Linked DNA regions of Homo sapiens: all the other regions are linked to region 1. The links come from fine-mapping of genetic effects on gene expression. A gene starts in region 1. Each other region holds a variant in brackets. All regions are shown on one strand. Distances are from middle to middle. Region 1 holds the start of EPHA4 (EPH receptor A4). Region 2 overlaps EPHA4 (EPH receptor A4). Region 3 overlaps EPHA4 (EPH receptor A4). Region 4 overlaps EPHA4 (EPH receptor A4).

The links.
Region 2: its variant is fine-mapped to the expression of EPHA4 in whole blood (INTERVAL, PIP 0.97).
Region 3: its variant is fine-mapped to the expression of EPHA4 in whole blood (TOPMed, PIP above 0.99).
Region 4: its variant is fine-mapped to the expression of EPHA4 in whole blood (INTERVAL, PIP above 0.99).

Annotation. Positions count from the first base shown.
Region 1 is chr2:221,570,794-221,573,505 of GRCh38, forward strand. It overlaps EPHA4 (EPH receptor A4), which reads right to left and starts at 1,511. Exons shown (of 18, transcript NM_004438.5): 1 at 1,365-1,511. The coding sequence starts at 1,455. RefSeq lists silencers at 1,467-1,886, 2,487-2,712.
Region 2 is chr2:221,497,570-221,500,069 of GRCh38, forward strand. All of the region lies in intron 4 of EPHA4 (EPH receptor A4), which reads right to left. Among named protein-coding and RNA genes, the nearest start is that of EPHA4, 73 kb to the right of the region's middle. The variant CTTTTTTTTTTTTTTTTT/C (reference allele first, on the strand shown) is at 1,221.
Region 3 is chr2:221,438,944-221,441,443 of GRCh38, forward strand. All of the region lies in intron 11 of EPHA4 (EPH receptor A4), which reads right to left. Among named protein-coding and RNA genes, the nearest start is that of EPHA4, 130 kb to the right of the region's middle. The variant C/T (reference allele first, on the strand shown) is at 1,004.
Region 4 is chr2:221,489,766-221,492,265 of GRCh38, forward strand. All of the region lies in intron 4 of EPHA4 (EPH receptor A4), which reads right to left. Among named protein-coding and RNA genes, the nearest start is that of EPHA4, 81 kb to the right of the region's middle. The variant G/C (reference allele first, on the strand shown) is at 988.

The DNA.
Region 1 (2,712 bases):
GGATGGAGGGATGGATGGACGGACGGACGGACAGATATATGGATGGATGCATTATGGATGGATGCATGGACGGACGGACGGATGCACGGAGAGATGGATGGATGCATGGATGGATAGATAGACGGATGGACGGACGGATAGATAGATGGATGCCGGAAAGGAGAAGAATGAGAGACGGATGTGAGACTAGATGCACGCAGGCCAGAGCACCAGCATACGCTGGAACAGAGCACGAGCATACACTCGAACACACGCGCACACACTCAGGACATCTGCGCACAGACATACAATCCTCCGCGTCCGCTTCCACGCAGGCATTCGCGCACCTACATACACGCAGTTGCACGCGCGCGCACACACACAGGCACACACACGCAGACATGCACACACACGCAGACATGCACACACACCACACATGCAGACATGCACACACACGCAGACATGCACACACACACCACACATACACACACACACACACACAGTTCGCCTCTCCCTGGGTTTCTCAGAAACTAAATGATCACCGCCCCCCCGCCCCGCCCCACCTCCCGACACAGACACACAGGCACATACAATCCTCCCAGCACGTCCGAACGGATGCACAGAAAACTGAGCACCCAGACGGGTCCCGTCGACCCCGCACGTTAGCTCTAAACTGTGTGCAATTCTGGGGCGAAAAGCTAAAACTCGACTGCGTTCAACTTGCCGGCGGGTTCCCCAAGTCTGCGGGGCGAAGAGCTCGGGCCCCTCAGGCCCGCAATCGCACCCTCGGGGCGCTGGGCTTGGCGAGGAGAAAGGTGTCTGACTCCGGGTGCTAGAAATCAGGTCACTGGCGCCTGACGAGCGGCGCCACGACCGCTGCGCTGCGGAGCAGGCCCCGCAGCCCGGTCCCGAGAAGCGCAGGGCTCGGGAAACTTTGCAGAAACCAGAGCTCGAAAGGCTTTCGCTAGAATCCGGGAGCACCAAGCCTTCACTGTGCTCCAGGCTGCGTTTTCCCCTCGCCCCGGGCTGGCTCAGGAGAGGACGTGGTTCTTGTAATTTTTTTTTTAAATCCCGGCGTTGTCTCCCGTGCATCCCCTCAGGGCGCCTCGAGCGGGCCTCTCTGGCGGATGCTGATAAACTTTGGCCTTTGGTTACAAACTTGGACAGACCCGCCGCGTGCACGGGTCACCGCCTCGGGGCAGGCTGTCCGGCGGTTCCCCGCTGCCCCTTCGCCGATCCCCTCGCCTCAGCCCCCTTCTCCCGAATCGGGACGCACCATTCACACTGGGCTCCCCCCGCACCACCTGGCCCTGCGCTCCTGAGGACCCCTCACCCGCGATGGCCCCTCGCTGTCCCCGACCACAGAAAGGCCGTCCCGCTCTTACCTTCATTCGCGGGGTATACCCTGGAACCTGTGACAGCGTCGCAAATCCCGAAGAGACACGAAAATAGGGCGAAATAGAAAATCCCAGCCATGGTTCGCCGGTGCCAACGCTGCTCCTGCCGCTTCTATCCCAGTGGAATAAATGCTTAAGTTAGGAGAGCAGCGGGCTGAAGACATTGCCAAGGGGGCGGGCCCGGCCGGTGACGTGAGCCCGCCAGTCCGGGGCCCGCGGCCAATGGCGGCGCAGACAGGGCGGCCGAGCCCCGCCTTCACCGAGCAGGGCCCGCCCCAGGGTTCCGCCCCCTCCGGGCTCCACGGGGCGCGCGGTCTCCCGGGGCTCTAGGGGGCGAGCACGGCCGGTCCCCGCCCCCGCCTGCCGGAGGGAGCCAGCGGGATCCCCCACGTTACCTCGAAGGTCGAGCCCCTGGACGGCGGAGGGACTTTGGAAAAGCTCGGAATTGACCGAGGGGAGCCAGAGAAGAGGTTGGAAACCTTTTCTCCCACCACGGGCGGTTTAAGATGGAGGAAAACGCTCTTTTATTGAAATAAAAGAAGTCTAAGCTGACCTGCGGTTGCTTCTTTAGGAGAGTCGACGTGTCTGCGTCCAGCGCGCCCGGGCTGAGCTGCAGACTCGCGCCTGCCACCGCCACCCTCTGCCACCTTGCCCTGTTTTGTCTTTATGGCGCTTCCCCCTCTGAAATACTCTTTGCGGGGAGTTTTGTGGCTCTATCACTCGCTTCTTCCCTGGCTCCCCAGATGCCTGGAGAGCGGGGACCTACTTGGTCCCCAACGTCCAGTCCGCAGCAGGGCTCCGTCACTGTCTCCAGAGACTGAACGAATGACTTTCTAGCAGTAAGGAAGTCCCCGCTGGCCCCGTCCCCCTGCACACGCCGTGGACCTCGCCCAGGGCCCAGGACGCCCCGAGATGGCCTTGGGCAGGGAACCAGTTGTGGATTTCCCGGGGGCAGGGTTGGGGGCAGTCCCTGGAACCGGGCCTAGCCCGTCTGGGAGCGGTGGGGTAGAAGTGAAAGGCTTAAGTGTGGGTGCGGGGACTTGCAGCCGCACAGACAAGGCAGACCGGGACTGGGAAGCTGCCCGGAGCGGCTGCTGCGACTCTCCGCTCCGACCTAGCCGGGGCAGCCCTCCCTGCCCCGGGAGAAGACGGCGAGCAGGAGGACCCGCAGAGCCCCGCCCGGCTGCTCCGGCCCCGGGGGCACTGGCACCATCGGGCTGTGGTCTTTTCCCGATGCCCGAGCCGTGGACGCGGCCACCTAAGAGCGGTCCGGCGAAGGCAGCGCAGCCGGTGTCCCAGGGACCGGTCCCCAACGCCACTCGGTGCATTTCCCCAG
Region 2 (2,500 bases), 73 kb before region 1:
CTCTACTAAAAACAAAAACAAAAACAGGTGTGGTGGTGGGCGCCTGTAGTCCCAGCTACTCGGGAGGCTGAGGCAGGAGAATCACAAACCCGGGAGGTGGAGGTTGCAGTGAGCCGAGATCACACCACTGCACTCCAGCCTGGGTGACAGAGTGAGACTCCATCTCAAAAAAAAAATGAAAAAATAAGTAAGTAAAGTAATGCACAAGACCTTGAAGTAGTAAAGTGTAGGAGAAGGAGTTCCAAGAGCAGGTATTTTCATGGACCTTTTAACAATGACACAAAAAGCCACCAGCCTTCCTTCCCTTCACCTTGTGGAAAATGACTTCTGAAACATGCAAATGTTACTTTAATTTTTAGACTTTTTGGTCCATCCATATGCTAAAATCAAATTTTCTCTTCTTCCCCTTTGCATCCTTAAGATAAAGCTAACAGTTAAAAATACAATTCCAAGGGCTCAACTACCACAGCCTTATTACACATACATCAAATGTTCCAGCAACACAGACATATGGCCATCTTTGGAGGTTTCCTAAACTCCCAAGTAGCAAGACTTGGTAATAAAGTGATGGGCACATGGTCCCCTTAAATGCTAAACAGGTCAGCATCATGAGACTGAAAAATACCTGGGAGAAAGAGCCAGGACCTCCTGCCATCAGAGATACATTTCATGACACTCATAATACAATCAAATCTCAACCTAGAGAAGGCTTTATCTGCATGGAAAGTAAGTGGGGGAGTACATGATGCAAATTGAGGGCCATCCTCAAAATGTCAGCCTCAAACACTTCCCCTTGAGTTTACTATTGTGCCCCAGATTCCTACAAGAAAATTGTTGGTAGCAGGTGTGGATAAAGATGGGGAGTTTATTATTAAACTAATCACACAAATGGAACATAGCATGAAAATATTTACATTGGAAAAGAAAAAGGTTGGGACTGAAGAGTTCAAACAAAAGTGGCCACGCAGAGAAAGTTCTTAGTCTATGGAGGAACAGGAAAGAAAGAAAGCAAAAACAATCCTTGCCTATTTACAGTTTTTCTGTTTTCGTTTTTTTTTTTCTAAGACAGGGTCTTTTTTTGTCACCCAGGCTGGAGTGCAGTGATGTGAATGCAGCTCACTGCAGCCTTGACCTCCCAGGCTCAAGTGATCCTCCTGCCTCAGCCTCCCAAGTAGCTGGGACCACAGGTGAAAGGCACCAGTCCTGGCTATTTTTTTTTT[CTTTTTTTTTTTTTTTTT/C]GAGACGACAGAGTTTCCTCTGTCATCTAGGGTGGAGTCCAGTGGTGCAATCTCGGCTCACTGCAACCTCTGCCTTCCGGTTCAAGCAATTCTCTTGCTTCAGCCTCCTGAGCAGCTGGGATTACAGGCTCACACCACCACGCCTGTCTAATTTTTGTATTTTTAGTGGAGACGGAGTTTTGCTATGTTGCCCAGGCTGGTCTTGAACTCCTGACCTCAATAATCCGCCTGCCTCGGCCTCCCAAAGTGCTGGGATTATAGGCCTGAGCTACTGCATCTAACCTTTTTAACAGTTACATCTGAGACTGACCCTAGGATTCTCCCTAACTCTGAATGTTTATGCTTGACTTGGGAGAGCCAGCAAGAGAATCTCCCAGATTCTCTATAATAGAATAATATAAAATAGAAATAATATAAAATATAAATATAATAATATAAATATAATAATAATATAAAATAGAAACTAGGTGAGTCTTCAGGTTGTACAACTCTGTCCAAGGTAGGGTGTGATCTTGAGCATGTTCCTTAACATCTCTGAGCTTGCAGTTACCTTTTCTATAAAATAAAGATTATACCTACCTAACAGATTTCTTATAAACCACGTATTAAGATTTTTTTCAAGTACCTAATACATTACCTGGGCATAATTATAAAATTGTCATCATCATCATTATTATCTCTCATTATGAAAGAAACTCTGGAGGTTACAGCAATTTGAATATAAAGTCAGAGAGACCTGGAGACTCACTCCACTCATTTTAAAGACAGGACTTGATTGCCCAGTGGCCCAAAGTGCTCAAATACCCAAAAACCTTTTATTTGCAGGGTTGTTAGCTCCAGATTGGCCAAAATACCATTTATAGTAGTTAGGAAACAAAATAATAATAGTCATAATGATAACTAAAACTAATATATATATATATATATATATATATATATATATATATATATTTTTTTTTTTTTTTTTTGAGACAGAGTTTTGCTATTGTCACCCAGGCTGGAATGTAATGGTGCGATCTCGCCTCTCTGCAACCTCTGCCTCCTGGGTTCAAGTGATTCTCCAGCCTCAGCCTCCCAAGCAGCTGGGATTATAGGCACCACCCACCATGCCAGCTAATTTTTGTATTTTTAGTAGAGACGGGGTTTCACCATGTTGACCAGGCTAGTCTCGAACTCCTGACCTCAGGTGATCCGTCCACCTCAGCCTCCCAAAGTGCTGGGATTACAGGCGTGAGCCACCGCTCCCGGCCAAAGCTAAAATAT
Region 3 (2,500 bases), 130 kb before region 1:
ATTTCTGGCATATAGGGCATGGGGAAATTTTTCACCTTAGGGGCAAAAGTGTTGAAGAGTGGGTTTTTAATTCCATGAAGTCCAATATATCAATTTGTGATATTTCTTGATTGCTTGAGTTTTTGGTGTTGTGTCTAAGAAATTACTCAGAGGCAAACACTTTTGCATTAGAAAATGGTACCATGGACATTTTATTTTCAAGTGAGGAAAGAAGGCTGGTAGAAAAAGTGGGAATCTTGGTGCAGACCAAAGGTGCATAAAACCACTTTTAAGTCTTTTCTCTACGCTGGCAGGGGTGTGTCTGCACATTCTCTATCAATACAAATAGGAAATGCTTAGTTCTCAGATTCATTTACCCTCTACATATGTGACCAGGGTTTTCTACTCAAAAAAAAAAAAAAAAATTGCCGGATGCAGTGGTGCACACCTGTAGTCCCAGCTACTCGGGAGGCTGAGACAGGAGAATCACTTGAGCCCAGGAGGCGGAGGTTACAGTGAGCCAAGATCGTGCCACTGCACTCAAGCCTGGGTGAATTTCTTTTCTTTTCTTTTTTTTTTTTAAGAGACAGGGTCTGGCTCTGTGGCCCAAGCTAGAGTACAGTGACATGATCATAACTCACTGCAGCCTTGAACTCCTGGGCTCAAGGGATCCTCCTGCCTCAGCCTCTTGAGTAGCTGGGATTCCAGGCACTAGCCACCGAGCCCAGCTTGTGACCATAGTCTTCTGACAGAACAAATGTGCCTAAATGAGTTTTAATCAACCTGCCTCAATCAAAAGATACTTTGTCAACTAACGAGAAAGGGCAGCCTCTCATGGCTGTGCATTAACACCTCCTTGCATTTCACCAGATCCCTCTGGAGCTGTGGAGACGACAGGAGAGGATCCAAAAGTGAGGGTCATGCGGAGAATTTATGGTCCTCCTGCCAATTTAAAAAGTTACTCAAGTAACTGCTGGTAATGAATTCACACGCTTCCACTCTACCCTTTCACCCTCACACCTCC[C/T]TAGTCGGACTCTTGGCACCATCTTCACAAATTTTCTGCATTCCATTTTCTGTTTATTAAAAGTATCCATTTGTCAGATCCTTTATGAGCTCTACAAGGGAAACAAAGATGAATGTCTCCATAAGCAAAGGGGCTTATAAAATAGGCCTGGGCTGGGCTCTTGGATAGAGGAGTCTCCTTCCCTGCAGTAGGCAGGGATGCAGTGGGGAGGAAAGGGGTGGGGGAAGGGAATAGCTTCTCCAATAGAAATTTTAAATCATTTTAATTCAGTGACAACTGCATTATGCAAATGCATCCAGTCGTTTATAACAGTTACAGCTGTAATAGCTACGTGTTTTAGAGGCGCGGTGGGACTTTAATACAAAGATCCCCTGTTTCTTCTCTCTTCTGCAGAGGTGCTAGGAAAATCACTGTCTGCGACAGGAAAAACACCCTAAGCTGAACAGAGCCTCCTTTTTAGAAAACGGACCTGCAAAAGTATTTAAAGGGAATGTTATCTTTTAATTAAAGTAGTGAAGGGCTCTGGGCGGCCCTGAAGGCCACAGGCAACAGAAAAATATCCTGTCTGTAAAACTAATCTCAAAAAGCAAATAGAGCTATTCTATGCTAATTATAGCCTTCACCTTATGCGGAAAATTATATATCCTTCTCACCAAGGTTCCTTTTTTTTTTTTTTTGAAAGATTCTGAAGATGGGGAAAGATGTACCTACTTCTTAAGACATAATAGCACCACTGAACACGTACGAGGTTTTTTCTGAAAAAATTTGCTATTGTGGTAACCACTCTAAGTATTCTATTTCATCCCCAAAATAACCTTATAAGGCAAATGCTCTTTTTACCTCCATTTTACAGATGAGAAAACTGAAAGAGAAAGATTGAACAAGTAGTCCAAGGTCACAAGCTTTAGAAGCAGCAGAGGTGGTATGCGGTCGTTTGTCCCCAGGCCAATGGTTCTCAAAGCGTGATTCCCATACCAGCAGCATTGGCTTCACCTGTGGTGAGCTCTCTTGCACTCCAAACTTACGGGCCGCACACCACCTGCTGAATCAAACCTCTGAGCAGGAGGCCCAAGAAACTGTCCTAACAAGCTTTCCAGAAGATTCTTATGTTTGAGGACCCCTGAACTGTATAGTGTGTACTTTCTCTCCCATTTTAGTAACCACCTCATTTCTTCTTCCTAAAGATTTTGTACTTTGTGTCCTACTAGCCACCTGCCCCAGGCCTAATGTCTCATTTTTTCTTTTCTTTTCTTTTTTTTTTTTTTTTTAAGTAGAGACAGGTTTCTATTAAAAAAATAGAGTCCAGGTGCCTCTGTCACCTGGACTGGGGTGCAGTGGTACTATCGTAGCTCACTAGGAATGATATGGACAGGCGGCAGGGAAATACTGGGTAGAAGAGGGTGGTTCCCTGCAAAGGCCCCACCTTCAACACTGGAAACCGTGGGCATTACCTTAGGAATAGTCAAACTCCAGGGGAAGATTATCTTCCTATTCCTT
Region 4 (2,500 bases), 81 kb before region 1:
CTCAATAAATATCTGCTAAATGAACAAATGAATGAATGATGATGCTTTAGCCCAGTCCAGCTCACTAATCAGAAGCATCACTACCATAGCACTATGGCTGAGCACAGTGGCTCATGACTGTAATCCCAGAACTTTGGGAGGCCATGGTAGGTGGAAGGCTTGACAAGCCTAAGAGTTCAAGATCAGCCTGGGAAACATGGTGAAACCCTGTCCCTGCAAAAATTATAAAAATTAGCCAGGTGTAGTGGCATGTTCCTGTAGTCCCAGCTACTTGGGAAGCTGAGGTGGGAGGATTGCTTGAACCTGGCAGGTGGAGGTTGCAATAAGCTGGGATCATGCCACTGTACTCTAGCCTGAGTGATGAATTGAGACCCTGTCTCAAAAAAAAAAAAAAAAACCCACTGCCATAGCACTTTTGTATGTCACAAAAGCTAAGCAAAATAATAATAATAATAATAAAGAGAGAAAAAATGGCAATCACATGCTAAAATGTAAAAAAAAAAAAAGAAAAGAAAGAAAGAAAATCAAGTCTGCAACCAAGGCAAGAAGACAGTTGATAGAAAAACCAAAGTCTCTGGTCTCATGTGATAGAGTAGTTTCCAGAGCTATCACAGACATCTAATACTTAACTGATTTTTAATCGCCATTTTAAAATTCAATGCCTGGGCTATGAAATTCATTCTGGATGGGAAATGGAGCATCCCCCAAGAGCATGGGCAGAAAGGTAACTCTCCCATGATCGATGTATTTAAGCACTGCTGTCACCTCACTAAAATGCTAAGGCAACCAGTCCAACACATATCTTGGAGGAAGCAGCACCTTGGGTCTGTAGTTCCATTTCCTAAGGCTTCATTAATCATGTACAACTTTTGGACTGTCAATAGCACTTCAGCGTCTTAGCTGTAAAACCCTTCAACCCTTCAGATAAGCCTTTGTTGTTAATCTCTCTCCAGCTGAAAGACAGGTTATAAGGAAGAGTCAACAGTT[G/C]GGATGCATTACGTTTTGACTCTGAAATAAAGCCCATGCTTCCCCTGACATTTGTATATGTTGCCACCACTAATTGCTTTCTCCCAGTCCTATCTGCTGTGGGTTAGTTTACATAAAGATGGCTGTTTTAAAGACATCCCTCCTGACATATATGAACAGTGCATAACCTCTTATCATGGTGGTTTATGTGTTTTTACAACAAAGACAGCCAAGCAGGGCTGTCCATGATTAAACCAGAACCTTTTGGATGCATCAATCACTTGCTGCTGTCATGAAAAATTCTTGGCTTCCTATAGAGGTTCATTTCTTGTTGTGAGACTTTCCCATAACCTATTTTTCTGGTTCTATCTCCTTTCCCATTCTCCTCTCCAGTGATCTTTGTCTTTTTTTTACTGGGTTAATTAGGGGTTTGGTTTCTTTTTATTAGGATGACTTGTTTATGGCTGAAGTGCCTTATAAATTCTCAGTTATACACAAGAAAGCTACCACGCCAAAGACCAAGAAAAGTAGAATTGAGTATTTCATTTTTAAAATTATCTAGCCTGTGCATTAATTTACTTTCCTTGCAAAGCACTTTTTTGTATCTTATTTAACAGCTGCAATCAAATCTGACAGAAAAGTATTTATTGTTCACAACAATCTGATCGCCAAAAACTAAGATAAGTTAAGCAAATTGCCAAAATTAAGACAGCCAACATGCGCAAAGCTGTGATCAGAAACCCTGACTCCAAGGCTAAACAACCCTGCTTCCCTTTCATAGAGATACAAATAATATAAAGAAAATAATAACCCATAATTACAAATTCTTTTTGAGAATTGGATAGAAAGTTTCCAACTTTCTCAGTTCACCCCAGAGTTCAATTTCACCTCACTTCCCTGCCCTTCATGATGATGATGGCTAGCTAGTACTACTTCCCAGATGATCCTCTTTTATCATTTTCATGGGGATTATCTTTTCTGCCTTGTTCCTACCTTCTGTGCAAGAGAGTGGCTAGGAGTTTCTATTAAAGGTTCTTTTTCTAGGTGGAAGATCATAGGAATAGGGCGAGGGGCAATTATATCTCTATAGCAGAATCTCTCATAAATCTAAATGTTGATAGCAAAGAAGATACCCTGGGCTGAGTGTGGTGGCTCGTTTCTGTAATCCTAGCACCCTGGGAGGCTGAGGTGGGAGAACTGCTTGAGCTGGGAGGTGGAAGTTGCAGTGAGCTGAGATTGCACCACTGGGAGACAGAGTGAGACTCTGTCTTAAAAAAAGAAAAAAAGAAGATACCCCGTTCTCACCCCAGGGGATCTCAGAAAAATGTGTAATTAACCTTGTTTCATAGAAGCATGCTGTGAATAACCACTGTATGACTTCCATGCATAGTGTCAAAAATGGCATCCAGAAATGACAGGACTCGGTCAATGACAAGCCACTCTTAATTATTCAGGGTGGTAGAAAAATTGTAATAACCTGGCTAAATGGCATTGGCAGATTATTCAAGCCTTCCACTTGGGCATATATTAGTGT